Linked DNA regions of Homo sapiens. The protein of the gene in region 1 interacts with the protein of each later gene in a biochemical or structural test. Each region holds a gene or a part of one and is shown in the gene's direction. Other genes may lie near its edges. The genes, in order: CASP3, PLA2G4B, CTTN, PKN1, PARG, NDUFS1 and MAPK8.

What was found.
Region 2: of the proteins of CASP3 (region 1) and PLA2G4B, one has a biochemical effect on the other in vitro, tested with the Homo sapiens proteins (one study listed by BioGRID).
Region 3: of the proteins of CASP3 (region 1) and CTTN, one has a biochemical effect on the other in vitro, tested with the Homo sapiens proteins (one study listed by BioGRID).
Region 4: of the proteins of CASP3 (region 1) and PKN1, one has a biochemical effect on the other in vitro, tested with the Homo sapiens proteins (one study listed by BioGRID).
Region 5: of the proteins of CASP3 (region 1) and PARG, one has a biochemical effect on the other in vitro, tested with the Homo sapiens proteins (one study listed by BioGRID).
Region 6: of the proteins of CASP3 (region 1) and NDUFS1, one has a biochemical effect on the other in vitro, tested with the Homo sapiens proteins (one study listed by BioGRID).
Region 7: of the proteins of CASP3 (region 1) and MAPK8, one has a biochemical effect on the other in vitro, tested with the Homo sapiens proteins (one study listed by BioGRID).

What each region holds. Positions count from the first base shown.
Region 1 is NC_000004.12:184,632,448-184,635,947, reverse strand, and holds part of CASP3 (caspase-3 isoform a preproprotein), read left to right. Parts: intron 1-529; coding exon 530-654; intron 655-3,500. UniProt on the Homo sapiens protein: Thiol protease that acts as a major effector caspase involved in the execution phase of apoptosis. Following cleavage and activation by initiator caspases (CASP8, CASP9 and/or CASP10), mediates execution of apoptosis by catalyzing cleavage of many proteins.
Region 2 is NC_000015.10:41,841,847-41,845,244, forward strand, and holds part of PLA2G4B (cytosolic phospholipase A2 beta), read left to right. Parts: coding exon 1-103; intron 104-346; coding exon 347-430; intron 431-707; coding exon 708-745; intron 746-1,829; coding exon 1,830-1,965; intron 1,966-2,624; coding exon 2,625-2,761; intron 2,762-3,001; coding exon 3,002-3,224; intron 3,225-3,356; coding exon 3,357-3,398. Other genes in the region: JMJD7-PLA2G4B protein, read left to right, coding at 1-103, 347-430, 708-745, 1,830-1,965, 2,625-2,761, 3,002-3,224, 3,357-3,398. UniProt on the Homo sapiens protein: Calcium-dependent phospholipase A1 and A2 and lysophospholipase that may play a role in membrane phospholipid remodeling.
Region 3 is NC_000011.10:70,429,529-70,433,028, forward strand, and holds part of CTTN (src substrate cortactin), read left to right. Parts: intron 1-1,662; coding exon 1,663-1,752; intron 1,753-3,500.
Region 4 is NC_000019.10:14,453,806-14,457,305, forward strand, and holds part of PKN1 (serine/threonine-protein kinase N1), read left to right. Parts: intron 1-3,500. UniProt on the Homo sapiens protein: PKC-related serine/threonine-protein kinase involved in various processes such as regulation of the intermediate filaments of the actin cytoskeleton, cell migration, tumor cell invasion and transcription regulation.
Region 5 is NC_000010.11:49,855,028-49,858,527, reverse strand, and holds part of PARG (poly(ADP-ribose) glycohydrolase), read left to right. Parts: intron 1-1,074; coding exon 1,075-1,222; intron 1,223-3,500. UniProt on the Homo sapiens protein: Poly(ADP-ribose) glycohydrolase that degrades poly(ADP-ribose) by hydrolyzing the ribose-ribose bonds present in poly(ADP-ribose). PARG acts both as an endo- and exoglycosidase, releasing poly(ADP-ribose) of different length as well as ADP-ribose monomers.
Region 6 is NC_000002.12:206,149,445-206,152,944, reverse strand, and holds part of NDUFS1 (NADH-ubiquinone oxidoreductase 75 kDa subunit, mitochondrial isoform 1 precursor), read left to right. Parts: intron 1-434; coding exon 435-526; intron 527-3,019; coding exon 3,020-3,127; intron 3,128-3,500.
Region 7 is NC_000010.11:48,425,177-48,428,676, forward strand, and holds part of MAPK8 (mitogen-activated protein kinase 8), read left to right. Parts: intron 1-711; coding exon 712-894; intron 895-1,203; coding exon 1,204-1,328; intron 1,329-1,903; coding exon 1,904-1,967; intron 1,968-3,500. UniProt on the Homo sapiens protein: Serine/threonine-protein kinase involved in various processes such as cell proliferation, differentiation, migration, transformation and programmed cell death.

The sequences.
Region 1 (3,500 bases):
TAATGCTTTTATATATTAATAAATTACTAATTTGTTTAGCTCATGGGGTTTAAGGAATAATTTATGAATTGTGATAAATATTGTGCTTTGAGTTATATTTGCATTTTGTTGATTTCCCATCATTTCAGGGTAATTTTTAAGATTTTTACTCTTACCTCAAAGGATAAAATATTTCACAAAGTTAATAAGTAATTTTTAAATTATAAAGGTATTTGATGAAATTTTGAAGAATTTAGAGGAAAATGTAAAACATGGAAGTTAAAAGCCTGAACTCTGAAGTCCAACAGATGCTTTCCTTCCTTCTTGGCTGTGACACAATATTTGCATAACCTTTAGCACATTACTTAGCCTCACGTCAGGTCATTTTCTCATCTGTATAACTGTTGATGTGAAATTGAAATGAAGACAGCCTGGTTTATAACATTCAACAAGTGTTAACTGTTACTGTGAGTTATAAAAATTGCACTAATATAAACAGAAGGCGTGGTCATTTCTACCTTTGTAAAGCTATTATTTGATTTCTAAACAGAAAGATCATACATGGAAGCGAATCAATGGACTCTGGAATATCCCTGGACAACAGTTATAAAATGGATTATCCTGAGATGGGTTTATGTATAATAATTAATAATAAGAATTTTCATAAAAGCACTGGTATGTGTCTTACATAATTTTTAATCCTTTTCAAATGTTTGTGCCATTTACATTTGATATAATATTAAAAGCAGTATTATTGAGGTATTAGACAGTAAACCGTGACACAGACTAGCTGTGAAGTAGAGATTGGGCAGGACCTACAGGTCCTCTGATACACTGTGAACGCGTCACTCTTCTGCCCAACTTCATAGCCTCCTCTTGCTGGCCTCCTATCTGTATGCTTGGTTGCCTCTGCCCTGACTTCTCTGTAGCCCTTGCTTCTTTTTCTTCTTTCTGCTTCCTCTTTGATCCCAATGGAAGGTTCTCAAAAAAACAGTTAAGTGGTAGTATTTATTTTTTCCCCAGAAACTGCAAGAGATATCACAAGCATTGCCTTATTTAATTTATGACAACCTGGAAAGTAACGATGAGATTCTGAAAGGTTAAAGACCTCGCGCAGTCACACAGTATGGCGGCAGAGCTAGGTCTGTGTGGCTCCAAAGCCCAAGCTCTGAATCCATCTTCTGTTCTGCTTCACTTCCTTGTATCCTCATGTGCTCTGTTGCCTGTCTTCCCTTACCCTACGAAGCTCCCCATCTTAGAGAGACCTTTCTTTTACTCTGTTCCTTTTGATTCCTTTGATATTTTGTCTCCTTCCCTTCTTCCTTAAATTTTGAATACATGTAGTTTAAGCTTGTACTCTTCATTTGTTTCCATTCCTTCTTGAGTCTTTTTCCATTTTCTGTCTCTACTACTAAAACTGCTTGCTTTAAATTTACCATGGCCTTGCCACCAGATCCCCCTCTCGATTTCTGTACTATGTACAACTTGAATGTAGTACTACATTTGAGAATGTTTTTTTAGAAATATAGATAATAAAATCCTTCACAGTGCCAAAAAAGCTAATTAATATTTGGTGTATTGTTATTTTTTCTTGGCAGTTCTTTTTAAAGCTTGATTTTATTCATAACGTATAAGCAATGTTGTCTTCTGCTTGTTTCACTTAAAGGAATAGCATTTTTCATATTGCTGCATAATTTTCATATCTGTTATAATGATTATATAATACTGCATCCCCAAAACTACCATTCACTTAATTTGAATAATTTACTGTATGAATGAACATTATGGCTGTTTCCCTTTTAAATTGATGCTATGATAATTCTTTGAATTGGCCTATTAATCATATTAGAGTTAATTTTTAATTAGAGAAGCTGTAGTAGATCTAAGGTGGGCCAGTACCTATCAGAGTGGTGGTGGAAATGGAAGGAAGCCAGATTACACTGGGAAGATAGCAGGGTTTGTGTCAGATTAATTATAAGGAGTGAGAAGAGAATAGTTGAAAATGGAGCTCTAAATGGCATCAGTTTTATTGCTTTTGGCTATAAGTTGAGATGCCACCTTCAACCATTAACTTAAAAACACAACACCTTGTTTACTTTTGCTTTACGCATATTTGAAAATTTACTTCTAGATATTCTGCCTCACATTTCTAGTTAGGATACCTCCTTCCTATAGAATTTTGCACTGTTGGCTCTATTGTTTCAAAAACCAAAAACAAGCATATTATTCCACTACCACCAGCACCTCCCCCCACATATTTAGACCAGCAGTCTGGGTTTTGCCCAGTGAGCTCCTTTCCTACTTTGCAATGTAAAGGTCAGGTTCTCATGAGATCTCTGGCAGGCTGGTGTTGGGCCAGGCGCCATGGCTCACACATGTAATCCCAACACTTTGGGAGGCCAAGGCAGGAGGATCCTTGAGCACCAAAGTTCAAGATCAGTCTGGGCAACACAGGGAAATCCCATCTCTACAAAACAGAAAAAAGGTAGCAGGGTGTGGTGGTGCGCACCTGTAGTCCCAGCTACTCGGGAGGCTGAGGTGGGAAGATAGCTTGAATCTGGGAGGTTGAGGCTGCAGTGAGCTGTGGTTGCTGTACTCTAGCCTGGGCCACAGAGCAAGATCCTGTCTAAAAAATAAAAATAAATAAAAATTAAAAGGCAGCCAACACATCAGCACCAGAAGCCAGTGACCTTGTCACACAGCTGAGATAATCAACAACATTTTGGAGATACATGTAGACTTTCTGTATTTAATCTTCATACCCATCAAATTTACTCAATTCTGAGGGATGTTTCCCACCAAGATTTAGCATTTTGAAATCTGAGTGCATCATGCAGTCAATCTGTACGTTAATGTGGAAGGTTCTCTAAAGGAGTGGTAGAAAGCCCAGGAGCCCTGGATACAGGCCCAGCATAGCTTTGTCACTTTGGACTGGTTTGTTAACTCTGCTACATGTCCCACATCTGCACAAGTGAAACTAGTAATAATATGACTCTCATGGTGATTGGAAGGATTAGAGATTAGCCATAGCAGAATACCTGATGAACAGTAATAATGTTTGGGGGTTTTCCTTGAAGGCACTATAAATGTTGTAATGCTATCTTAAAATTGTTGGGAAGTTAGAGTCAGAGAAACGCATTTCCTCTGAGTGTGACAGATGTGTGTATGTATTATAGGATCGTATTGTTTTCTAGTCTTATTTTTTTAAACTGATGATTTTCCCATGGCAACATTTTATCTGTGAAAATGACAACATAGTATATCCCATTATATAAGTTAGTATAGCTTGTCTAACCAAACCCTTATTGTTAGACATTTGTGTTTTTCACTACCTAAACCGCTGTGAAAGACATCATTTTGGCTATAACACTGATGAGCTTATATTATGAAGTATCTTATAAGCTACAAAATTGAAGAAATTTTGTTCACCATGTTCAAAATAGTTAGAATTCTCTTACCATTTAAAAGGAAGAATTTATTGTGGACTTCTGAATTGCTGAGTAGTTAATTTCATTTCAAAG
Region 2 (3,398 bases), on another chromosome or scaffold:
TCCTGGGTCCTGTGAGGGTCCGCAGGAGGCCTCTGTGGGCACTGGCACCTTCCGCTTCCACTGCCCAGCCTGCTGGGAGCAGGAGCTGAGTATTCGCCTGCAGGTAGTGTGCCTCGCTCCCTCGAGGTGGGGCCCCCAGAACTTCCTCCCTCCCTCTGCACCTCCTCCCAGTCTGACCTCTGCTCCACCTGGCAGAGTGGGCACCCTGGCAGCATGTGTGGGCCCATGCTGGCCTCCCCTTCCCGTCCCTCCCATAACTCTATGGCTGCCGGCGGGAGTTTGGTGAGGTCTTTGCTAGGAGTGGAAGCGTAAAGATTCTTAGGTCTGCATTCTTTGTCCCCTGCAGGATGCCCCCGAGGAGCAACTAAAGGCGCCACTGAGTGCCCTGCCCTCTGGTCAAGTGGTGAGGCTTGTCTTCCCCACGTCCCAGGTACTGGCCTCCCAGGGAAGGAAGCAAGGCGCCTGGATGGGGCTGGGACCCAGGCCACAAAGGGAGGGGCCTGCTTCCCGCTTCTCCGTGGGTCACACCCTGAGCAGGTGCTGGGGCCAGGCTCTTTGGGGAGTGTCCTCTGAGCATCCCTGCTTCAGGCCTGGCGCCTGTGGAGACGGTGGCGGGGCGGGGGTGGTGCGCCGGGGATCAGGGTAAGAGGACCAGAGCTGGGTGGAGGTGGCCGACCTTTTGTGACTGGGGCCTTCACGGTTTTCAGGAGCCCCTGATGAGAGTGGAGCTGAAAAAAGAAGCAGGGTGAGAGGCCTGGCTGGGGACTGGGCAAGGCCCTGGAAAACAACCAGGGTGCGGGGCTGGAGGAGGCCTGGAGGAGTGAGGGGGAGAAACAGCCGCCCCTCATCCTCATGCTCTCTGAAGGGGCTCAGGCTTGCGCTCGAGGGGGCACGAAGTACTGGGAGGAGTACTGGGAGGAGTCTTAGCACCTATGGTCAGAGGGGCGAGTGACCGGCCCAGTGCCAGGCACCCGGGGAGCACTTGATAAATGTTTGGCTGGAAAACGCAGGGAGGCAAGGATGGAAAATGGTAACATGGTTTGGGGCGCAGAGAGGGCAGGAAAACCAAGGGAGAGAAGAGGGGAAATTGCGCCCTTTTGGGTGGAAGCTGTTATGGCTGGACCTTAAATGATCTTCGTAGAGTTGTCGCCCACCCTGGCCCTCTGTCTTGAGAGAGTGGCTTCTCACCTCACAGACACAGGATTATTGGTCCTTTTCTGCCCCGCCCCCTGCCCTTTTTTTTTTTTTTTTTGAGATGGAGTCTCTCTCTGTCGCCCAGGCTGGAGTGCAATGGCGTGATCTTGGCTCACTGCAACCTCCGCCTCTGGGGTTCAAGCGATTCTCCTGCCTCAGCCTCCCGAGTAGCTGGGATTACAGGTGCCCACCACCACACCCAACTAATTTTTGTATTTTTAGTGGAGATGGGGTTTCCCCACATTGGCCAGGCTGGTCCTGGCCTCAAGTTATATGCCTGCCTCAGCCTCCCAAAGTGCTTTGAACTCCGTGGGTAAGGGACAGAACACGAGACTTGGAGGGGGGGGATCTATGGTATGGGGCCTGCCTGGGGGCCTGTCTGCACCTGGGACCCCAAGCAGCCTCTTTCGGCCACGGCATTCTGGGTCCTGCCAGTCTGCTTTGCTGCATTCCCAAGCATGTCCACATGGACACACTCTCCCCAGGTGTCAAACTTCAGTCTTGTGACACGGGAGTGGCATTGAGGGTTGGGGAGAAGAGGGAGGGCAGTAGGTATTACAGGTGAGGCAGACCCAGCTTTCCATTCTCTGGGGAGGGTTGAGAGCTGTCTCACAGTCTCTTCCTTCCCCGGCCAGACTGAGGGAGCTGGCCGTGCGACTGGGCTTCGGGCCCTGTGCAGAGGAGCAGGCCTTCCTGAGCAGGAGGAAGCAGGTGGTGGCCGCGGCCTTGAGGCAGGCCCTGCAGCTGGACGGAGACCTGCAGGAGGATGAGGTTTGGGGGCTGGGCTGGATGGGGTGTCCCCGGGCTTGCTTGGGCCTAGCTCCTGGTGCTGAACACTGGAGCTGCTTGTCCCCGATCTAGACCAGAGCTCGTAGCTGCCTGTCCCCACCCTGCTTCCTCTCACCTGGTGTTAGCAGGGACTTGGTACAGGCAGAGTGTTGCTTGAGGCACCTGGAGCCCACATGGGAGCTACCTCATAGGGCTGGCTTTCCTACTCTGTTTCTTGGTTCTCAGCCTAGCCTGTCTGAGGAGGGAGACAGATATCTGGTATGAGGCCTGTTGGCCCAGGGTGCTTCAGGAGGTTCATATTAGCCTGGGCCGTCTCCTGGGGGAGTGATGGCAATTTGGGAAAATTCTGAGGCGGGCCCTGGGGCTTCCAGAAAGTGAGCGTCAGGCTCGGGGGCTGAGGGCAAGGAGATGAGGCTCAGAACTTGCCTGGGCCATTTTTTCCTGGAGCCCTTAGGACTGGAGGAGCTGGGCACTCAAAAGGCTGTTTCTGGCCCCCAGGGCTGACTGAGAACTGGTCCCAAGACCTGTGATCAGGCCTTAGCTGTGGGCTGGGTGGCCACTTGACCTGCTACCTCTTCTTCCTGTGACTTGGCCTTCCCCATCCCTAGGGCCTCTACAGGCCTGGCTCTCTTCTTTTCCAGATCCCAGTGGTAGCTATTATGGCCACTGGTGGTGGGATCCGGGCAATGACTTCCCTGTATGGGCAGCTGGCTGGCCTGAAGGAGCTGGGCCTCTTGGATTGCGTCTCCTACATCACCGGGGCCTCGGGCTCCACCTGGTGAGCTGGGGGCAGGCTGATGCTGGACCCTGTGTGGCAGGGGGTGCTGGTGCCAGGGTTCTCCTAGGCCTCTGAGAAAACTAGAAGGGCTGGGAGAATGAATGTGCCAGGGAGAAACGTGCTCAAGGGGACCCTGGGAAGGTCCCTGCCAGGCCATTGTCCTAGAAAGCCCGGGGCACGTGGGGTCTAGACGGGGTCCTTCAGTGACAGCCCTCTGGCTTTGGCTTTGGCTTTTCCCAGGGCCTTGGCCAACCTTTATGAGGACCCAGAGTGGTCTCAGAAGGACCTGGCAGGGCCCACTGAGTTGCTGAAGACCCAGGTGACCAAGAACAAGCTGGGTGTGCTGGCCCCCAGCCAGCTGCAGCGGTACCGGCAGGAGCTGGCCGAGCGTGCCCGCTTGGGCTACCCAAGCTGCTTCACCAACCTGTGGGCCCTCATCAACGAGGCGCTGCTGCATGATGAGGTGCGGGGGCTGCGGCCTGGGGGCAGAGCCAGGGCAAGGGCTGGAGCTGGGGCTCGGTGCTGGACAGCAGGGTGGGAAAGGCCCTGGGCACCCAGGCCGCTGTGGGTTTAGGTTCTACGCATCTTTCCCCAGCCCCATGATCACAAGCTCTCAGATCAACGGGAGGCCCTGAGT
Region 3 (3,500 bases), on another chromosome or scaffold:
AATGTCAGCCTGAGTCTCTTCTCACCCCTCCCCCTCTGGAAGCCCCTCCTTTCCCAGGTGGAAGTTTGGGGTTTGGAGGGGACTCTGTGCAGAGGCAGCCTGCTCTCGGGGCCTGCTTCTGCTTGGCCAGCCCAGCCCCGCTCACCCAAGCCCCTGGGCTGTGGAGAAGCGCTCCCAGAGAAAGATGCCAGAAGTGCACCCCTGGCAGGGGCGGAGCACGAGCCTGTGTCTGGGTGCTTTGGGTCTAGCCTGGGTGGCTTGCCACTGACAAGGACTTTCCTTGTGCTCAGCTGGATCAGGGGGGTTGTGAATAGAGCCTGAGGCCTACAGATGTGTGTGTGTGAAGTTACCAGGTGTGGTTCTGCAGCTGGGGCATCTGCAGTGTGGGGCAGGCCCAGCCTGTCTGGAAGCCTGGGCTTCTCCTATCCACCCCAGGCCCTGCCCCTGCAGGGCCACACAGGACGTGCTACTTTGGGTGTTTAACCTGTGGATGGCATCAGGTGACGTGGGAATTTACAACTGTCCTGTTGGGGTCAAGCAAGGCCATAGATGCCAGGAACCGTGCTAGGGTCTCAAGACCAGGGGTGGTTTTCTCTTCAAAAAGACAAGACAGCACTACCATTGTTCCCGTTAGAGCAAGGCCGCCTGCAGAGGGAGAGGAGGGAAGGGGTTTGGAGTGGACACCTGGGGTTCAGATCCTGCCTGGGCAGCTCCCTGGCCAGTGTGCCTGTGCCTGCCACCTCACCCTCAGACTCAGCGTCTGGCACTGGAGCCCACAGGCTGTCAGTGAGTTTCCTGTTGCTGCCGTAGTCACCACCACACACAGCACACAGCTAGTGTCTTATAGCTCTGGAGGTCAGAGGTCCTCAAAGATGTCAGCAGGGCTGTGTTCCTCCTGGTGGCCCCTCGGCCCTGTCTTCCCATCTCCAGCCTCTGCTTTTGTTGTCACCGCCCCTCCTCTGTCCCTCACACTCCTGCCTCCCTCCTCTCAGGACCTTGTGATTACATTGGGTCCACCCAGGCAGTCCAGAGTTCTCCCCATCACAGAACCCTTAGTTTCATCACATACACAGTCCCTCCCCATGGGGTCTGGGGACTGCGATGTCAGCAGCTTTGAGGGGCTATTATCCTACCCCAGTTCATCCTTTGGCCCCTAAAGCTTCATGTCCATCCCATGTGCAAACATACTCAGCCCATTTTAAGGTCCCCAAAGTCTCAACCCATTGCAGCATCAACTCAGACTCCCAAATCTGTGCCTAAACTATCTAATCGTGTGTGGGCGAGAATGAGCTGTGGCCCAGTCCCGGCACTGTCGCGTCACTGGCTGTGTGATCTCGGCCTCAGAGCACACCTGCCCCTCGAATCCTGCCTAGGTGCTGGTGGGATCTGAGGCTTGGTGCTCCAGCTCCCCTGCCCCTCGGATCCTGCCTGGGTGCTGGTGGGATCTGAGACTTGGTGCTCCAGCTCCCCTGCCCCTCGGATCCTGCTGGGGTGCTGGTGGGATCTGAGGCTTGGTGCTCCAGCTCAGCCTTGGTGTGGGTGTTTTCCACTCCTTTCCCCAGAGCATGCCTAGAGCTTGCACACGATCTTCTGAAACACGGCAGGCGTGACAGTGCAGAGTGTCATGGCAGCATTCTGATTGCTGTTTGTTTTCAATCACAGGAGCAAGCCAGAGCCAAAACGCAAACGCCCCCTGTGTCGCCCGCACCTCAGCCAACCGAGGAGAGGCTGCCCTCGAGCCCCGTCTATGAGGTTGGTGTCTTTGGTGTTTGAATGAGCGTGAGTGACTTACTGCCAGAGCCCAGGTCCTGTTTGTGGAGTGGAGGAAGCCCTTGCAGGCAGGCAGTGTGGCGTGGGTGTAGAGGGCATCGCTGCATTCCACGCCCGGAGAGGGGTGGGCCAGGAGCGCCTGGGGGGTGGGTGACATGCCTCAGTGCTGTCAGGGGATAGCTGTGCAGGCCCACATGCCATCCTTTCACCCCTCTGCAGCCTGTTGTAGTCTGGCCACTGTCACTGCAGTCCCTGCTGTAGTCACCTGCTATCAGATAATCAGATGGGGGTGTCTTCACCCCACTTGCTCTCTGCTGTGCAGGACGCCGCCTCACTCCCTAATGGCAGTGCTGCCCTCCTTCATCACTGAGCCCCTGCCTCCCGCACAATCTGCCTTCTATGCCTGCCCCATTCAGCTCTCCAGCCTTGCAGCCCCTCATGAGTGTGGCTGCAGACATGCTGTCCGGCCCCTCCCTGTGCTGCTGACCCCCTCTCATGGGTCCCCCAGTGTTCCGTCCCCATCCCTGAGTTACGGAGCCGCCTGCCGATGCCCCGCCCATCCCTGACTTTGGGTCTCCTGCTCCCCGCCAGCACCTCTGCGCTAACCACACCCTCTACCTGTAACCACCTCTCCTGTCCCCAGCCCTTGCCCTTTCTCCATCCCATGGCCATCATCCTGGTCTATGCATTCATCTCTGCTCGCCCAGGAGCCAGTCAGTTACAGGGGTCACACTCCAGACCATGGTAGTTCAGGAGCCCAGAGAGAGCCCTGGAGACAGGCCGGGTCTGGGATCTGGGCCTCGATGGCCGTGGCCTTGTCACCACCCGACTGTCCCTCCTTGGCTACGCTGCTGCCTGCTGCCTTTACCCTGCCGGGCCCTGGGGGGATGTGGTAAGTGAGGCCTTGCAGCTTGTCAGGAACCGGCCTCCCCCTCTAGTCCCTCCCCTTGGCAGCCAGCGCCATCTGCCTCAAGGAAGCTCCGACCCTGCCCCTCCCGTGCAGTTCAGCCCTTGTGTGGTTCCTGGTGCCTGTGCTGAGGGTGGAGTCGCTCTCCCTGCCCGATTACTCTCCCTGGCTAGCAGCTCTCCACCACTGGCTCTTCCCAGATCTCCTGGGTGCGCGGTTCTGAGCTGTCGGCATTGCTTTCTTTCAGTCACTGCCGGTGACATCAGGTGGACCCTGGTCAGAAACATTGATTAAAGCCACTGTCGGTGATAAGCAGTTCAGAATTTTCGCTGGGGCTCCGAAGCGGCAGTGGTTATAGATAGAGAGGTGTTCCACTGCGCACCTTTGTAGTTGAATGTGATTCTTTGGCGATGCCCTGTCTGTAGGCTCAGCTGCTCTGGAGCCACGTGGTGAAGCCGCTGTCAGGCAGGGCCAGGGTCGAGCAGCACAGGCAGGAGGGTGGCCGCTCGGCCCAAGGGTGCCTTGTGTGGCCTTGGAGATGAGGCCTAAAAAAAGAAATCAGCCAAATTAACCCAACAAAGACAGGCTCTACCCCCAGGCAACAGTGTGGGCAGGGGCGTGTCTCCTAACCTGCTGTGTGGGCGTGGTTATTGCAGGACTGGAGTGTCGGTGGTGAGGACCGGGTCATCATCGGGAAGGAAATGGCATGTGGGCACTCACCACCATGGTGAACACACCGGCAGGCCTGGCCTTCCTATACCGCGTCTGTTTTCTCAGTCCTGGCTGGGACTGAGAATTAGATGGCCCGTGGGTTTCTGCTGGC
Region 4 (3,500 bases), on another chromosome or scaffold:
GGAGAATTGCTTGAATCCGGGAGGCAGAGGTTGGAGTGAGCAGAGATCATGCTACTGCACTCCAGCCTGGGTGACAGAATGAGACTCCATCTCAAAACAAACAAACAAACAAAAAAACAAGAGTAACCATATGATCCAAAGCTACTTCTGGGCATATCCCCAAAAGAATTAAAAACAGGGCCTCGGACATTCCATAATGCATACATATTTCAAAACAACATGTTGTGCATGATAAATATATATAATTTTTATTTGTCAGTTTTAAAAATAGTGATAGAAAAATATTTAAAAAAAAAAAAAAGGGTCTCAGAGATATGTATACCTGTGTTCATAGCAGCATTATGAAAGCCAAAAATGGAAGCAACCCAGATCCACCAATAGATGAATGGGTAAACAAAACGTGGGCCAGCCATGCAATGGAACATTGCTCAGATTTAAAAAGGAAAGAAATCCTGCCAGGCGCAGTGGCTCATGCCTGTAATCCCAGCACTTTGGGAGGCCGAGGCAGGTGGATCACTTGAGGTCAGGGGTTCGAGACCAGCCTGGCCAACATGGTGAAACCCCATCTCTATTAAAAATACAAAAATTAGCCGGGTGTGGTGGCACATGCCTGTAATCCCAGCTACTCAGGAGGCTGAGGTAGGAAAACCGCTTGAGCCCAGGAGGCAGGCGTTGCAGTCAGCCAAGATCATGCCACCGCACTCCTGCCTGGGTGACAGAGTGAAACACTGTCTCAAAAAAAAAAAAAAAAAAAAGGAAAGGAATCCTGTCTTATCCTGCAACACGGATGAATCTTGAGGACATTAGTCTAAGTGAAATAAGCCAGTCCCCAAAAGACAAATATTGTATGATTCCAGTTATATGAGGTTCCTAGAGTAGTTAGATTCATAGAGACAGAAAGTAGAATGATGGATGCCAGGGAGTAGAGGGAGGGGGAATGGGGAGTTTATTATTTAATGTGGACAGAGTTTCAGTTTTGTAAGGTGAAAGTTCTGGAGATGGATGGTGGTAATGGTTGCACAGCAATGTGAATGTACTTAATGCCACTGAACTGGATGGACACTTTAAAGTGATTATGATGGTAAATTTTATGTTACATGTATTTTACCATAATTTTTTTTTTCTTGAGACAGATTCTCCTCTGCTGCCCAGGCTGGAGTGCAGTGGCACCGTCTCAGCTCACTGCAACCTCTGCCTCCTCGGTTTGAGCGATTCTCTTGCCTCAGCCAACCCAAATAGCTGGTGGGATTACAGGCGTGCGCCACCACACCCGGCTAATTTTTGTATTTTTATGGAGATGGGGTTTCACCATGTTGGCCATAATTTTTTTAAAAGAAAATTTGATTCGTAATCTCATGGCAAAAAAGGAAAAAGAAAGAAAATTAATACGTATGTACAAAAAAAAAAGGGAGTGTGGAGAAGAGTAACAGGAGAGCAGACACCCATATTACCACCACCTGCGTTAGGAAATAGAATATGGCAGCCAGGTGCCACGGCTCATGCCTGGAATCCCAGCATTTTGGTATTTGTAGGAGGATCACTTGAACCCAGGAGTTCAAGACCAGCCTGGGCAACATAGCAAGACCTTGTCTTTACAAATAATTTAAAAATTGGGGCATATGGCCAGGTGTGGTGGCTCACGCCTGTAATCCCAGCACTTTGGGAGGCCGAAGCGGGTGGATCACAAGGTCAGGAGATCGAGACCATCCTGGCTAACACAGTGAAACCCCAACTCTACTAAAAATACAAACAATTAGCCAGGCGTGGTGGTGGGCGCCTGTAGTCCCAGCTACTCGGGAGGCTGAGGCAGGAGAGTGGCATGAACCTGGGAGGCAGAGCTTGCAGTGAGCCGAGATCGCGCCACTGCACTCCAGCCTGGGTGACAGAGCAAGACTCTGTCTCAAAAAAAAAAAAAATTGGGGGTACATGTCATCAGGCCCTCCTGAATCTGTGTCACAGAAAAAAAAACTAAAGGGAAAAAAAGAGAAGACAAGCCAACCAAAAATTAACCAGGCGTGGGCATGGTGGCTTGTGCCTGCGGTCCCAGCTACTTGGGAGGCTGAAGTGGGAGGATTGCTTGAGCGCAGGAGGTCAAGGCTACAGTGAGCTGTGATTGCACCACTGCATTCCAGCCTGGGCAACTGAGCGAGACCCCATCTTAAAAAAAAAAAAAAAGGAAAAGAAATAGAATATTTCCAGCTCTCCAGAAGCCCCCTCTTGTCTCCTCCACAATTCCATCTCCTTCCTCTGCCATAGAGGTGGCTACTCTCCCGACTTTTATCATTTCCTTGCTATAATTTGTAGTTGTAGAACCCCATGTTTGCATCCCCAAAAACTTTTGTTTAATTTTGCCTGGTATTAGAACTTTATATTGACAGGCTCATACAGACTATTCTATCACATGGCTTCTTTCATTCAACATTGTTTAGGGGCTAGGCATAGTGGCTCATGCCTGTAATCCCAGCACTTTGAGAGGCCGAGGTGGAGGGATTGCTTGAGCCAAGGAATTTGAACCCAGCCTGGGCAACATGGTGAAACCCCACCCTACAAAAAAATGCAAAAAACAAAACCAAACTAAAAAAAGCATTGTTTTGGTAGACTCATCCATTTTGTTGTGACAAGCTATAGTTAATTCATATTTATTCCTGTTTAGTAATCCATTATGTTAGACTGAGCCATATCGAATTGCCTCTTTCTGAAAGCAAAAAAATAGTTAAATATCAGCAATTTCGTACTTCAGCTACTAAGATGGTATAGCAGTTTTAAAATATTAATTCTCCTGTTAATGGACTGTGGGATGCCTCTATTTTGGACTGTTACATACACTTTATATAAATGCATCTCCTGATGTATACCCACATGCATTTGGCTAGGGTAAATCCTCAGGAGTGCCTGGGCGCGGTGGCTCACGCCTGTAATCCCAGCACTTTGAGAAGCCAAGACCAGTGATCACTTGAGGTCAGGAGTTCAAGACCATCCTGGCCAACGTGGCAAAACCCCATCTCTACTAAAAACACAAAAATTAGCTGGGCATGGTGGTGTGCGCCTGTAGTCTGAGCTACTTTGGAAGCTGAGGCACGAGAATTGTTTGAACCCAGAAGGTGGAAGTTGCAGTGAGCCGAGATTGTGCCACTGCACTCCATCCTGGGTGACAGAGAGAGACTCTGGCTCAAAAAATAAATGAATAAATAAATCCTTAGGAGTATGTGGCTGGGACTTCCATGTAGAATAAAATTGAATTTGGATCCCTGCCTCACATCACACCATGTAAAAAAATCAACTGGATTAAAGGCTTCAATGTCAAATGCAAAACTTTACAGTGGGAGAAAAGTTATGGAGGGGAGGATTCATTTTAAAAAGATAGCAGACAGCTAGGCCTGGTGGCTCATGCCTGTAATCCCAGATACTTGGGAGGCTGAGGCAGGAGAATATCACTTGAGGCCAGGAGTTTGAGACCAGCCTGGGCAACATAACAAGACTCATCTCTACTGAAAAAAAAA
Region 5 (3,500 bases), on another chromosome or scaffold:
AAATAGGCTTCAGATTGTCATTTAGTATCAGTTGCTTTAGAGAACACTGAAGTTTTAAGAAATCGTATATTTTAAAATAGTTTGAAAGAATATAAGCCTCATGGTATTTAGTAAATCCTATTTTACTTGTGTGTATGACTATGTATATACACAAGTTGTGTGTGTGTGTGTGTGTGTGTGTGTGTGTGTGTGTGTGATCTAACTCCTCAGATAGTCTCACTAAGGAAAAGATGGTTGCTATTTCTTACATACTGCTTCATGAGGCTGGCATAGTGCTGGACACACTGGACAAACGGAAATAATGCCAGCAAGTTGAGTTTGCTTTCTCTGGAGGATTGTGTAATTCTTCTTTATTAGTAGGCATTTGGGGATCCCATCATACTACTCCACATAAAGCTTAAGAGTTTCCAACCTAATTGGAAATATTACTTTAATTGAATCTTTGTTGCTATACTGGGTTTTCTTTCTTCCTTTTTTCCTTAGTTATATTTTTAAAAAGTAGTTTGTAATGTTCATGTAGTTTGGGGTTTGGGGTTGAATTTAGAAGGACAAAAATTCGATCTCTTTATTCTTACAATAAAGTTGGAAAAGGTTACCCAAAAAGTTGATTACTAAACTTTTCAGTTCTTTAGGGCAAGTGTTTGGTTACCATATTACATAAGAAAAGTTTAATTATATTAAAGTCACGTGAAATACATAAAGGGAAGTTGAGTAGTGAATGGGGGAGAATGACTTTGAAACCTTCCCAGATAAAGACCTCCCTTGATTTGTGGCCCATGAGACACAAATAGGTTTATAAACAAGAGTCTGTATGATACATAATATTTTGCCTAAAAGCTCCATTTTCCAGATTGCTTCTCTGGTTCTGGGATCCAGAAAAATGTGCAGAGATGTTAACTGCAGTGAGGTGGAAAGAGCTTAAGCAACCAAAATCTGCCCTTCCTGGGAAGATTACTTATTTGGGGATTGATTTTCATGGGAGAGGAAAAGATGAGAGCTTAGAGACTATGTGCTTCTTGATCATATGTGTAGGTATTTTTGACCATTATTTAATATGTCACATTTCCCCAACAGGTGGATTTTGCAAATCGTTTTGTTGGAGGTGGTGTAACCAGTGCAGGACTTGTGCAAGAAGAAATCCGCTTTTTAATCAATCCTGAGTTGATTATTTCACGGCTCTTCACTGAGGTGCTGGATCACAATGAATGTCTAATTATCACAGGTTAGTTTTGGGAAGCCTGGAAAATGGGGTAGTCTTCCCCATCTGTGAATATCTGTCATGAAGACTAGAGACTACCCAGTATAGCTTTTATCTTCCATGGGCATCAGTCCCAATATTTTTATCCATTAATTTATACTTAGTTTTTGAAATTATTACAGCCTTATTTTCCTAATCTTAAGTAAGACATCTTATTTTTACCTTTTCTTTCTTTCGTGGCATCTTTATCTGAGGAACAGGGATTAAAAACTATTCAGTTACCCCACAGTTTGAATTTTTTTTTTTTTTTTTTTTTTTTTGAGACAGAGGTTTGCTGTTGTTGCCCAGGCTGGAGTGCAATGGTGCAATCTCGGCTCACCGAAACCTCCTCCTCCCAGGTTCAAGCGATTCTCCTGCCTCAGCCTCCCGAGTAGCTGGGATTACAGGCATGCGTCACCACACCCGGCTAATTTTGTATTTTTAGTAGAGACAGGGTTTCTCCATATTGGTCAGGCTGGTCTCGAACTCCTGACCTCAGGTGATCCGCCCGCCTCGGCCTCCCAAATTGCTGGGATTACAGGCGTGAGCCACCACGCTTGGCAGTTTGAAATTTTATGACATAATAATGCTCTTAAGAAGAACATAGTGATATGCCTCTAGTATGTATTCTGTTGTAATTCTTCCATTTGAGAGTGATTTGTTTCTATTAAAAATAATTTTCAAGTGGTTTCTTGTACTTTAGTATGAAGACATTGTGTAAATATAAGAAGCACAGGAACAGTATTTAGAGAAATCAGTAACCTTTTGTTTACCCTATTTTGAATCCTAAAAGAAAAAGTTCAGTTATCATGGCCAGGCGCGATAGTTCATGCCTGTAATCCTAGCGCTTTGGGAGGCCAAGGCAGACAGATGGCCTGAGGTCAGGAGTTCAAGACCAGCCTGGCCAACATGATGAAACCCCGTCTCTACTAAAAATACAAAAATTAGCCAGGCACGGTGGTGGGTGCCTGTAATCCCAGCTACTCAGGAGGCTGAGGCAGGATAATCACTTGAACCCGGGAGGCAGAGGTTGCAGTGAGCTGAGATCGCGCCACTGTACTGCAGCCTGGGCGACAGAGCAAGACTCCATCTCAAAAAAAAAAAAGTCTGATTATCTTGGTGTTTCTTCTTGTCCTTCTTGATTTCTTTACGCTAATATGGGAGGAGGAGGGGGGAAATTTAGTCACGTGTATGCTTTAGGTCTGTTATAGAGATTTAATTTTTTTTTGTTTCTTCAGACTGAGATCACTATGTAACAGTATTTTCTTTGAATAAGCTATCAAGAAAAATGATGATTACCTCATATCTCTTAAGAAACTCTTAATCAGGCACCATATGTAAGTTGAGTCTTTTATTCAAGTACGTAAAAGAATATTCCCACATAAGTGCCGTTAATGCACCATGAGTTGCTGGTACTATTTTTTTTTCCTGAAAAAGTGGATTTTTTATTTCCACTTAGAATCTGTTACTGCTTGGAGATGAGTTTCGGGGTCTAAACACTCACCTGGGTTGTAGAATTTAGTTTATTGTTATTCCCAAAAATTATAATAGGAGAAAAACCCTCCCCATGAGTTATATAAAATGTGTACCCAACCGCATTACCTCCAAAGACATACATGACAAAACCGACTCCAAAGTCTAATCTTGAAGCCACACTGTGCCTCAGATAGATTTGTAGACAACCTTCAGAAGAGTATATTTTCTTATGTTTTGCTTTTAAGATTCTCTTTGACTTTCAATGGTTTGAATATGGTGTGTCTACATGCAGATCTCTTTGACTTTATCCTACTTGAAGTTTTTTGAACCTCTCTAATGTTTGTTATATTTGGTAAATGTTGGGCCATTATTTCTTCAAATGTTTGTTCTTCCCCTTTCCTCATCTTCTGGGACTCCCAAATTACGTGTTTGTTGATTCACTTGATGTTCCACAGGTCTCAGAAGCTCTGTTTATTTTTCTTCATTCTTTATTCTTCTTGTTCCTGAGGCTCAGTCTCAATTGCCCTGTCTTCAAGTTCACTGGTTGTTTTTTCTGCTTGCTCTAAACTGCTTTTAATCTCACTGGTGAATTTTTTATTTCAGTTATTGTACTTTTCAATTACAAATTTCTGTTTATTTTTTATAATTTCTATCCCTTTATTTATTAATATTCTCTATTTGAGAGGCATCATTCTTATACTTTAGTTTTTTAGACATAGTTTTCTTTAGTTGTTTCAGTATATTTTAAATAGCTCATGTAAATTCTTTGTCTACTAAGTCCAACATC
Region 6 (3,500 bases), on another chromosome or scaffold:
ATTACTTGAGGTCAGGAGTTTGAGACCATCCTGGCCAATATGGCGAAACCCTGTCTCTACTAAAAATACAAAAATTAGCGGGCGTGGTGGTGAGTTCCTGTAATCCCAGCTACTCGGAAGGCTGAGGCAGGAGAATCGCTTGAACCGGGGAGGTGGAGGTTGTAGTGAGCCAAGATGGCGCCACTGCACTCCAGCCTGGGTGACAGGGCAAGACTCCCTCTCAAAAAAAAAAAAAAAAAAAGAAGAAGAAAGAAGTTTCAGTTTAAACTACTCTGCTATCAAAAGTAGACAACCATAAGTTTGCATCCAGAGCAATACAGAGGAATAATAAGGAATGAAAAATTTTAGGTTTGTAGTTAGAGTCAATTCATCCATTATCATCTGCTATAATAAACTGTTAATCTGTTTTTCGCTTCAATATCTTTGATGGTCAGTTCGAACAACTGCCACAGCAGCAAGCAACTTGATTGAAGTATTTGTTGATGGTCAGTCTGTCATGGTGGAACCGGGAACGACCGTCCTCCAAGTAGGCATACATTCTAACTATTTTGTGTGTGTGTTCTGATTTTTTTAAAAATACTAATTTATTTCCTTTATACTGATTATTAGTAAATAATTCTTTAAAATAACTATACACAGCAAAGTTATATTAAAATTATTTCATTTTAAATCTTGGCACTTCAAAGTGAGCTATCATATATTTGTTTGTGGCATTTTTAGTGAATTATGGTAGTTCTTTTGTTTCACTTTTCATTCCAAATGAATACCCATTAAGAAATTTGAAGTCCGAGCGCAGTGGCTCATGCCTGTAATCCCAGCACTTTGGGAGGCCGAGGCGGGCGGATCATTCAGGAGTTCTAGACCAGCCTGGCCAGCACTGTGAAACCCCTTCTCTACTAAAAATACAAAAAATTAGCTGCGCATCGTGGCGCGCACCTGTAATCCCAGCTACTCGAGAGGCTGAGGCAGGAGAATTGCTTGAACCCAGGAGGCGGAGGTTGCAGTGAGCCGAGATTGTGCCACTGCACTCCAGCCTGGGCAACAGAGCAAGACTCTGTCTCAAAAAAAAAGAAAAGAAATTTGAAGTAACTTAAATTAGTTACTATAGGTAAGTTTGTGAAAAAATAACCTCCATTTGTTGTGGGCCTGCTTAATGCTTTTCATTTTCATATAACCTTTCTGTGGTTAGTAATATTCATAGGAATATATCCTACAAAGCAGGTAAATGGAGGGTAGCATGTGCTTACATTCATGCTCTAAATATTTCTTCATATTCCTCCAGAAATAATAAATTGGTCATAGAGAAGTCATGCTTCACTCCATTTGTAAGTTGTCACAGATCTAAATGTTCTTTGTTCATTTTAGCAGTCATTTCTAGACTATCTGCCAGTCACAGACATGAAAGCACAAAATATGATATAAATGTATGTTCAAGGTACAGTGAAAAGTTGTGGCAGGGATAGGAGGTAGTAGAAAGAGGTATTGGGTGCCTCAGGTCATCCCTGAGGAGGTGTTAAAGGATGAACAGGTGTGTTCATATTGTGAACAAGAACGACATGCTTGCATTTCCTATGGAAAAAGTTAAGGCAGATAGCTTGTCATATTTTGAAAGCTTCAAATAGTTTAATATTGATGAAACATAAGGTATAAGTAGAAGATGAGATCACAGGAAATCAAGTTATTGAGGAAGGGAAGGTCCAGTCATGAAATACAGTATCTGCTATGCAGAAGAGCTTATATTTTGATCCATCAGGAGTTTTGTTGCCTATTTAAACAGGGTGACAGCGACTGTAGAGGATGATCATTTGGAGAATAGCAAGACTGGAATAAGAGACAAGGAAAAAGCATTTTGTATTATTGGGACAGGATACTACAAAAGCCCTAAAATAGATAGTGTCAATGGGAATGAAAACAAGAGAGTAGATTCAAGGGAGAATGAAATGTAGACAGGCCTTCAGGAATGATGAAGACCCGAGGGATTTTTTCCCCCGTCGTACAGAACTTCCCAATATTGCTTTAACAGTGAGAAAAAAAAAACACAAAAGAAGTTTCAGTAGAGCCACAGACAAATAGTTCTTTAGAACTCAAAGAGACCGGAGGAATTCTTGTGGTTTTCTGCATTTGTTAGGTTATTTTGGAGTGTATAGAGGGGAGAGAAATCATTTGAATTTAAGCTGTCTGTGGAACATACACATGCAAATACCTGTAAATCTGAAGCTTGGAGAAGTGGAGGTCTAACATGGCTGCAGATTAAGGTTTGGACATAATCAGCATAAGGAATGTCAGCTAGGATGAAGGCTGGGACACTATCTGTCTTTTTCACTACTATACCTGCATCCTGCACAAAGGAAAGACTCAACACATTTTTGCTAACTAAATAGTTTAAACACTGGAAATTGATGAGATTGCTTTAGAATGAAGGCTGAGGATGAGGAACTAACTCTAGAGGAAATTTGAACATGTTTATAGACTAAAAGGAGGAAGAAATTGCAGAGCAGGGTAGGTGATAATTGGCAGAGCAGGGATAATCCCCCTTACTGGGCAAACAGAAACTGGGAAAACCTTCAGCCACAGTGGGAGGTGAGTCCTGGGTAGCATATAGGAGCCAAAGACAGATAGCCAGCTAGATAATGTGTAGTGAAATCTCTAATCCAAAGGAGGGGAGCGAGGCAAAGAAGAAGTCCAGGTATGAAACCACTGGGGACATTGTGGACAATGGTTCAAAATGGATGTGGGAAGTCAAGTCTTCAGCACAGTGGAAGGATACTTTATCCAGTTTCTTCCACATAAGGTGAAGTCACGCCAAGGATCCTGAGATCCTCTGAGGCAGCTTCAGAGGAGACGGGTTAGAATCAAAGGCAAAGAAAGGGACTGAAATAAGAATGAATTAAGATAGATAGATAGATAGATAGATAGATAGAAGTAATAAGATGCTGTATGTGTGTGTTTCAGCAATAACAGCAGTGAAGTCAGGTTATTCTAATGCTTTTTTTTTTTTTTTTTTTTTTTTTACTTCTAGGCTTGTGAGAAGGTTGGCATGCAGATCCCTCGATTCTGTTATCATGAAAGGTTGTCTGTTGCTGGAAACTGCAGGATGTGCCTTGTTGAAATTGAGAAAGCCCCTAAGGTACTTGATACCTAAAATTCTACACCATGCTGTAGAAGGTAGAAAACTTTAAATCTTGCAGCAAACTTTATTTAGAATCAATATCGTAGTGGAGAACCTAGCCCTCTTTACTTCTATCTATAAATTTAATTCTTTTGTACAATTGATTCTCTTCATTTCAAAACTGGAAACACATAGATAGAAGTGCTTTACAAACACATGTCATATAATTGTAACATATCTAGAAATTAAAGGTGATTTATAGTTGTCAGTATTTCCAAATGGCTGTATAATATATAACCAGGATGTAGAGTTGCCAAGTAGCACATTAAAAGTGCTGACGCCCTGCCATTTTTAGTAGAGAAAAGGGTTGCAGGGAAGAAGTTCACTTTCA
Region 7 (3,500 bases), on another chromosome or scaffold:
AGGAGGAAGAATGGGAAAAGGCATATTCACAAGGTTACAATAAGTGAGTTTTAGGCCTTGGCCTTCAGGGTCCTGGAGTGTAAAGACTAGAGGAAAGGAGACCAAGAAATCCTAACCTTACAACTTAGCAAAAAACTGAATCTTTTTTATAAGGGTCAGAGCTTTAGAAAATTTTTTTAAACCTAAGCTAAACAAAGAATGGCAAAAGAAAATGCCACTTTTATCGAAGCCTTTATTTTTATTACAACTGATTATTTTCTGTTAGTGTAGAAAACTCAGTAAAACAGGATGTGTTCTAGAAATATTGTCTAGGAGATATAATCATGTTTTCTGATAAATTGACAGAAAAGGAAAAATTTTGTATATTATTATAGCATTGTGTGCAGTTTGCAGTTAGAGCCACTATGGATAGTAATTGTCATTATTCTTAGTTGCTTATCATTTTATTTAGAATTTGTGAGTTTAAGCTTCCATTTTAAGGTAAAATCAGTTAGTTTGAACACACAATAAATAAGGTTAATAAAGCTTATTTATTGATCATTTCTGTCCACCTACAATCATTGCCTTTTGCAGGGTGCCTGTGAGATATAAAATTTATAACTGCCACATCCTTTCTTAGGAATTTTTAAATTTCTATTTTCTTGTAATATGAATATGACTAATGTATTGAACATTAGTTATGGAGTATTTTTCTTAGCTACTTGATATTAGATATTGATCAGTGGAATAAAGTTATTGAACAGCTTGGAACACCATGTCCTGAATTCATGAAGAAACTGCAACCAACAGTAAGGACTTACGTTGAAAACAGACCTAAATATGCTGGATATAGCTTTGAGAAACTCTTCCCTGATGTCCTTTTCCCAGCTGACTCAGAACACAACAAACTTAAAGGTACTTTTTACAAATATGTACATTTAATCCCATTTGGGGTGTGTAGTGTGTGTGTATGGGTTTGTGTGTTTATATGTATTCATATTCTTATGGGACATGAACCCAAGGTTTTCTCTGGATGGTGGGGAAAAAAATGAGGTTTTTGTTTTTTTTTTCTTTAATCTTATATATTTTAATCATATGTATAAGATAATTTTACAGTAATATTTTTAAAACATATGCTTTTTAAAAAATCTCAAATTGCTGAAAGTTATTAATAATTTGAGAATCTTTACAAATATATGTACATTAACACCATTATGTTTGCAGCCAGTCAGGCAAGGGATTTGTTATCCAAAATGCTGGTAATAGATGCATCTAAAAGGATCTCTGTAGATGAAGCTCTCCAACACCCGTACATCAATGTCTGGTATGATCCTTCTGAAGCAGAAGCTGTAAGTTATTTTCTTAATGTTTACAGAACATATTGCATTCTTAGAGTTAGAATGACAGTTAGGTTTGGAGGAGACCTTTTAATTTTAAATAAAAATGTAGATACATGATGATGATGTTTTTCTGTTTCTTCATGAAGACTACGTCAAATAAACTAATGAACATATTCGAGCCCCTCCTACACAAAATAAAGTTACCTCCCACTGTTTTTTGCAATCTTGCCTGGATACCTAACCAGAGAACTAGGATGTTGAATGCTCTGGGGGAACATCCTAACTCAGGTATAAAACAAATTACTGTATCCAAAGGAAAACAGAATTCTGTGATCTGTGATATAAATAAAATGTGGCAATTTCAAGAGCTAGAAGAAAAGAAAAAAGACAGTTAAACATTTTATTTCCTGCAATGAAGGAGTCTTCCTAAACTATTATGTCTGTATAAGTAAGTTGATGATTGATCAGTCTTGATCTAATGATATATTTTTATAAGTCATCTGTGTGGCTAATATTTCAAATAACTACAGAGTTAAAATACTCCCAGCATACTGACTTGGTTATTATTGCCTTGTGTTTTTCAGCCACCACCAAAGATCCCTGACAAGCAGTTAGATGAAAGGGAACACACAATAGAAGAGTGGAAAGGTACATTCGTCAGATTCTTAGAGGGAAAACTGTGAAGGAGCTTCTGGTTTTTATATGGTGATTTATTATCATGTTAGAGAAATTTGTGACTTTAATATGCATAACCGAAATGTGGTAATATTAATATTTTTACATAAGTAGAAAGTAAGTCTGCTTCCTTCCTTAACTTAATCTTAAGTTCCCAAGTTTCCCACCCCAGACACAGACACATTAGTGCTCTGTCTCATATTTTTTTCCATGGTTTGTGAATACACAAATGTGTTTAGTGTCTCCCACCTCTCCTCTTCCACCCTTTTAAAATCACGTATGGTTGTGTACGGTGTATGCTATATGTACTTGCTTTGTTTATTTATTATATATTTTTTTGAGTTGGAGTCTCGCTCTGTCACCCAGGCTGGAGTGCAGTGGTGTGATCTCGGCTCACTGCAAGCTCTGCCTCCCGGGTTCACGCCATTCTCCTGCCTCAGCCTCCTGAGTAGCTGGGACTACAGGCGCCTGCCATCACACCCGGCTAATTTTTTTGTATTTTTAGTAGAGACAGGGTTTCACCATGTTAGCCAGGATGGTCTCGATCTCCTGACCTCGTGATCCACCCGCCTCGGCCTCCCAAAGTGCTGGGATTATAGGCGTGAGTGCTTTGTTGATATAATCAGATATCTGGAAGGTTATTCTCTTTTAGTTCACGTATCTGCCTCTCTTGCTTTAATAACTGGTTAGTGTTCTGCTGTATGAATATGTCACACTTTATATATCCATCTCCCTCTTGGTGACCATTTAAATTGTGTCCAGTCTGTTGCTGTTAGAAACAACTCTGCAATATTCATGTTCACATATGAGAACATGCCTGGAAGAAAAATCCTGGAAGGAGATGTTCTGAGCCAAAGATATTTTTCAGTTATTTCCAAATTACTCTCCAAAGAAATGGTAGTAGTGTACACTTCCGTCCATGTTATATAGGAGTCTCTCTTTGCCCTCACCCTTGCCTACAGAATGGGTTAATTTTTAATATTTGTAAATCTAATGTAGTTTTATTCTATTTTATGAATGTGGCTGAAATTAATCATGCTTTGATAGTCATGGAAGTTTTCAAATATTTCTTCAAAAGGTGCCCTGGGACATGTGGGTCAGGTAATTTTTAGGTCCCGTTTACTTCCATTTGTGTTATTGTCCTTCAGTGTTTTGACCACTTTTGTAACTGCGTGACTTTGAGTAAATCACTCCCCCTTCATCTCACCCTCCTACACTGCCCCCTGCATTTTACCTCATCTTAAAATAGAGGCAGAAGACCTGTTATTAAGAGTTGTCTCTAAATCCTGGGAAAGGAAAGGGGACTGGGGAGGTATAAACATGAATAAGTGACCCATCTATAAATGTATTTTGCTAAGCATGAATTTGATTCTTTCTTAGAAATTGAAGAGATTTAGAGATTGGTTTTCTCTGAACTTTGGGAAACCCATGGTTAGCAGAGCCCGTGATAAAGTTAGAAGAATGACAAAATGATAAAATTGGATAGAGTCTGCTGCATTTGAATAT